Regions from separate parts of the Homo sapiens genome. Here region 1 is linked to region 2. The links come from fine-mapping of genetic effects on gene expression. A gene starts in region 2. The other region holds a variant in brackets. All regions are shown on one strand. Distances are from middle to middle. Region 1 has its middle 1.7 kb from the start of IL4I1. Region 2 holds the start of ATF5 (activating transcription factor 5).

Region 1 (2,707 bases), 31 kb after region 2:
CTGGGCAGCATAACAAAATCCCATCTCTACAAACAGCACAGAAATTAGCCAGGTGTGGCCGGGCGAGGTGGCTCACGCCTGTAATCCCAGGACTTTGGGAGGCCGAGGCGGGCAGATCACAAAGTCAGGAGATTGAGACCATCCTGGCTAACACGGTGAAATCTCATCTCTACTAAAAATACAAAAATTAGCCGGACGTGGTGGCAGGTGCCTGTAGTCCCAGCTACTCTGGAGGCTGAGGCAGGAGAATGGCGTGAACCCAGGAGGTGGAGCTTGCAGTGAGCCAAGATAGCGCCACTACACTCCAGCCTGGGTGACAGAGTGAGACTCCGTCTCAATTAAAAAAAACAAAAAAAACAAAAAACAGGTGTGGTAGTGCACTCCTGTAGTCCCAGCTACTAGGGAGGCTGAGGTGGGAGGATTGCTTGAGCCCGGGAGGTTGAGGCTGCAGTGAGCCGAGATTGTGCCACTGTGCTCTAGCCTGAGTGACACAGCAAGACCCCATCTCTCAAAACAACAACAACAACCACCCAGAAGTCCCCCAAGGTGAGCTGCACATATGCCTGGGGCCAGAGGAGTTTTGTGCAACAACCCTCTGTGATAAGGACAAGGGGATTGGTGCAGGGCCCCACCCACTCTGGGGACCCAAAAACTCCTGGGACATGCCCTGGGAGCCAGTTGGCTGTGGGCCTCCACACCTTTCCATGGTTGTTTCCACTGTTATGCGGCTGTAGGACTGAACAAGCTATTGGGCAGGGGCCGGGGACCTGGGGCCCACCCGACCTGGTGAGGAATGCCAGCACTGCCATTCCCCACTGTGGGACCCAGGTCGAGGCACAGGCGAATAAGGCCCCAATCCCGCCGCGTTCATACTTGACATGTCGCTGTGAATGAAACTCTGAGACCTAGGCCAAGCCTTTTCCCCTCTCTGTGCCCCAGGGTCCTCCTGTCCCACCCTCTCGCCATCTCCAAGCCTCAGTTTCCTCAACTATCAAATGCAGGCATTGTTGTTGGTTTTTTGTTTGTTTGTTTGTTTGTTTTTGAGACGGAGTCTCACTCTGTCCCCCAGGCTGGAGTGCAGCGGTGCAATCTCGGCTCACTGCAACCTCTGCCTCCCGGGTTCAAGCGATTCTCCTGCCTCAGTGTCCCGAGTAGTTGGGATTACAGGTGTGCACCACCACGCCTGGCTAATTTTTTATATTTTTGGTAGAGACAGGGTTTCATCATTTTGGCCAGGTTGGTCTTGAACTCCTGACCTCAAGTGATCCGCCCACCTCAGCCTCCCAAAGTGCTGGGATTACAGGCGTAAGCCACTGTGCCTGGCCTCAAATGCAGGCATTGTGAGGCTTACGATGGGTGCAAAGCCCTGAGCACCAGGCGGCCTCCAAGGCAGGTGATCGCCATGGGAACATTTTTGTCACTATTTTTTTCTTTTTTAGAGAAAGGGTTTCGCCATCTTGGCCAGGCTGGTCTCGAGCCCCTGGGCTCAAGCAATCCTCCCACCTC[G/A]GCCTCCCAAAGTGCTAGGATTACAGCAGTGAGCCTCCGCACCCGGCCCTCATTACTATTTTTTATTTTTATTTTTTATTTTTTGAGATGGAGTCTGGCTCTGTCACCCAGGCTAGAGTGCAGTGGCACGATCTCAGCTCACTGCAACCTCCACCTCTTGGGTTCAAGCAATTCTCCTGTCCCAGCCTCCTGAGTAGTTGGGACTACAGGCGTATGCCACCATGCCCGGCTAATTTTTATATTTTTAGTAGAGACGAGGTTTTGCCATGTTGGCCAGGCTGGTCTTGAACTCCTGACATCAGGTGATCCGCCTGCCTCGACCTCCCAAAGTGCTGGGATTATAGGCGTGAGCCACCCCTGGCCCTCGTCACTATTTTTGCTGACCCAAGCTCTTTCGGTCCCTGAACTCTCCAGCTCTTTGATCATTTCCCTTTGCCACGGCCTCCCGCCCCTGCGTCACATGCCTTGTTACTCACATTCACCCCCCAGCCCCTCCCGGCCATAACCGCATCCCTCTTTGATTTACTGCGGGAGTTTCCCATCTTCCTTCTTGTTAATGCCCTCCAACCCCCACCCAACCCTTGCTGCAGAGAATCTGCCTCCCTCTGGTTTTCCTCCTCACGGAGCCCCTGGCTCCCTCTCCCCCACCCCAAGGAAAGTCCCTGCTATTGTTTCTCCACCCCCACCCACTCCAAGGTGCCGCCCCACTCCCTGCCCTGAGCACTGAGGTGGTTCTTAAAGCAGGGATGGGTGAAGCCTGGGCGCTTCCCTCTGCCGGGTGGTCACTCATAGAACCCCTGAGTGCCCCTGCGGCCACAGCAGCTGGCATTTCCAAAGGAGCAGCTTCCAGTACTACCCCAGGTTCCGGCCACAGAACTTAACCTGGATTCACTCACTTGATCCTAAAACACTGTGACGTCTGTAGACGTCATTTGACAGCTGTAGACGAGAGCCACAGAGGGGAGGGCGGGCTCAGAGCCCACGTCCTGACCCCGGGACCACGGCTGCCAGCCCCACTGCTACACCCATGTAACGGAGGGGGAGACTGAGGCTCTGGGTGGCAAGTGGAGAGGGAAGTGGAACCATGGGGGGCCCTGCAGGACATGGCGACACCTGACGGAGAGGGACTTGGAGGGGAAAGTTGGCCTGGCCCAGGGACCTGTAGCCCCTCTGTCCCCGTGGGAATCAAGGAGGCAGAGAG
Region 2 (2,941 bases):
CGCCCTCCAGGGCTCCCCCAAGGACCTCATAGGGAGCCAGGGGGGCAGGGGCCGGGGGGAGTTTCCCATAGTCTACGAGCCATCCCAGCCCACTAGCTGGGAGCAGGGCCCTGTCCAGCTCCAGCCCCAGGGTCGCCAGGAGTGACATGGCTGTAGCACAGGTGCTGGGCACTGATGGCAACAGGAGAGGCTGCACCAGCAGCTGGCACGAGGCTCTGGAGGATGCTCAGGTGGGCGAAGACAGGCACCAAGGCGAAAGTGGAAGACCTACACGCGTGAGACAAGAGTGGGTGTGGTCAGGACAGCGTCATCCACCGGCCAAAATCAAGGGGAAGCCAAGCCACACCCCCAGGCACGTCCATGAGGCTCCTCCCTCCCCCTTCCAACCACCGTTTAGAACACTAAGCCTCAGCCTCTCCGAATTCTAAATTTGCCCTTTCTTTACCCAAATCTCTGAGCCCCACCCACTCCCAAGGGAATTTCTTTAGGTCCTAAAGTAGGACCGATGCCCCACCCCTTCCCCCAATACAGAAAAAAAAAACCTAAAGGTCTCCCAGGGGAATTACCTTAGGCCCCTCCCATCCACCTCAGAATATTTCGCCTCAAGGAAAAACTCAATCCCAGGGACATTTTCTTCCAGCCACGCCCCTTCCTCTAAAATATTTCCTTTTGGCCCCACTGCCTTCCTAGCTTCCATCCCAAACCAGTTCCCAGGGGAACTGCCCCAGGCCGCAGCCCTTCAGCAATGTTATCCACTCAAATCCCACTCCTCGCTCTGCCGCTGCCCCTCCAAGCCCCGCCCCTCATTGTTTATTTAGCTCCGCCCCTCCCCCGATTCCCCAGAGGCCCCGCCTCTTTGTCACATCGAAACCCCACCCCTCAACTAACGGTTGGTTTAGCCCCGCCCCTTCTCACAATGTGCTTCCGAAATCCCACCCATCGTGACGACAGTGGTTCTATCCCCACCCACTTAGAGGGTTGCCTCTGGGTCCCGCCTTCTGCCCTGTCAATCTAAGCCAGTCCCCGCCTCAGCAGGTGCCTGGTTTAAAAGGAAGGAAGCTGGGCTGTGAGCCAGAGCAACGTGGGGCAGGGAGGGTGGAGGAGGGTAGAGGGGGCACGCGGAGAACGGCTACCCGAACGCCACCCGTCCACACGCGGCTCTGCGCCGAGGGCCAAGGCGCATGCTACGTCGCCCGAGCGGTCCAATTGCCTTTACACCTCCGCCCTCTTGGGGATCAATGCGCATGTGCGGCCATTCAGGGTCCGCAGCTCTTTCACTACGGGGCACTGGTGGGCTACTGCGCAGGAACAACCAAGCACGAAGAATCGTTTAGAAAAAAAAAAAACACACCCTCCCCTGGAGTGCTCAGGCCCAGCTGCACGCGGGCTGACAAACATCGAGTCTAGAACTCTCCCACCCGGCCCCGGGCCCAGTGCGCATGCGCAGCCGCGCGCCTTCGGCCCACCGTACTACTTCTGCGCCTGCGCGACCGTGATTCCCCGCTCGCGACTCCCCACCCCCCAGGGCTCCCTAAAGAGGGCCACGAGCTGCGAAAGGGCGGGAAAGGCAGTTGGAGAAGAGGTAAGCGGTTACTCACTCCATGGCTGCAGCAAGGAGAGGCGGCGGCGGCCTCGGCTGAAGAAAGAAGGTGGGAGCGGAGAGCGCAGGCGTGGTGAGCGCGGAGACGGGCCGGGGGCACAAAGGGGTCGAGGCTACAGAGCCATGGCCGGGGCTACGCAGGCAGAGGCGGCGACACTGTAGTGAGAAGAGACTGTGATCCGAGGACAGGGAATGAGGCGGCCCCGGGGACTGGGGACAGATATATACTGGGTGGCGGAGCACGGCCCTCCCGGATCCTTCCGCGCCCCGCCCTCGCGCGGCCCCAACCGGGAGGCAGCCGGGTCCCCTCCTCCTGGGGATCAGGGGATCCGAGCCTTTCCTTCCCACTCCTAGGGTCCGGGACCCTCCTCCCTCTCAGCTGGGGATCCGACCTCTTCCCTCTGAGCCGGGGATCCAGCCCTCTCCTTGTGGCTCCGGGGTCTGGTTTCCTCCTCCTGACTCTAAGCTCTGGTTTCTTTCTCTTTCTGCCTCTGAGGTCTGGGCCTGCTTCCTCCTGTGATTTTGAGGATCCAGCCTCATTCTCTTCCCGCAGACCTGCACCAGTTCATTTCTCTTTCCCTTTCCTTGCTTGCAGAATTTCCTGCCAGTCACTTTTCACTTCTTCATCCCCCAGCTGCTGACTCTGAGAAACCCTCGTGGGTTAGAGTCCAGCATGAGTCACAGCACTCTCCCAAATACAGACCTGCCAGGATGGCCTCGGGCAAATAACTTAAGTTCTCTTACTTCATTTCCCTATCTGTAAAATAAGAAAAATCAACTCGCCTGGTGGGTTTATGAGACTCAAATAAGACGATGTCTGGCAAGCCTTATGCACAGAGCTCAACTCATACATTCCTGTTCAACTGTTTTTTTTTTTTGAGACGGAGTCTCTCCGTCTCTGTCGCCCAGGCTGGAGTGCAGTGGCGCGATCTCGGCTCACTGCAAACTCCGCCTCCCAGGTTCACGCCATTCTCCTGCCTCAGCCTCCCGAGTAGCTGGGACTACAGGCGCCCGCCACCACGCCCGGCTAATTTTTTGTATTTTTAGTAGAGACGGGGTTTCACTGTGTTAGCCAGGATGGTCTCAATTTCCTGGCCTCGTGATCCGCCCGCCTCGGCCTCCCAAAGTGCTGGGATTACAGGCGTGAGCCATCGCTCCCGGCCTCAGCATATTTTATTAATAGGAACTCTGGGGCCCAGTCTCATTTCTTCCTTACCACTTGTAAGAGCCGCAGACGTTGGACTGTCCAACACCTGCTGTCATTCTTCTGTCTCCCTCATCCCTCTAAAGTGTCTGTTTCCAGCTATCCTCATCTTCCATTCCAAATGATGGGTGCCCAGG

What was found.
Region 1: its variant is fine-mapped to the expression of ATF5 in whole blood (INTERVAL, PIP 0.96).

The regions. Positions count from the first base shown.
Region 1 is chr19:49,897,204-49,899,910 of GRCh38, reverse strand. It overlaps a transcript of IL4I1 not described here. Among named protein-coding and RNA genes, the nearest start is that of IL4I1, 1.7 kb to the right of the region's middle. RefSeq lists an enhancer at 1,915-2,094. The variant G/A (reference allele first, on the strand shown) is at 1,507.
Region 2 is chr19:49,928,058-49,930,998 of GRCh38, reverse strand. It overlaps ATF5 (activating transcription factor 5), which reads right to left and starts at 1,794. Exons shown (of 3, transcript NM_001193646.2): 1 at 1,599-1,794; 2 at 1-267. The coding sequence starts at 148. It overlaps NUP62 (nucleoporin 62), which reads left to right and starts at 1,495. Exons shown (of 3, transcript NM_016553.5): 1 at 1,495-1,673. It also overlaps a transcript of IL4I1 not described here. RefSeq lists silencers at 1,005-1,054, 1,905-1,964.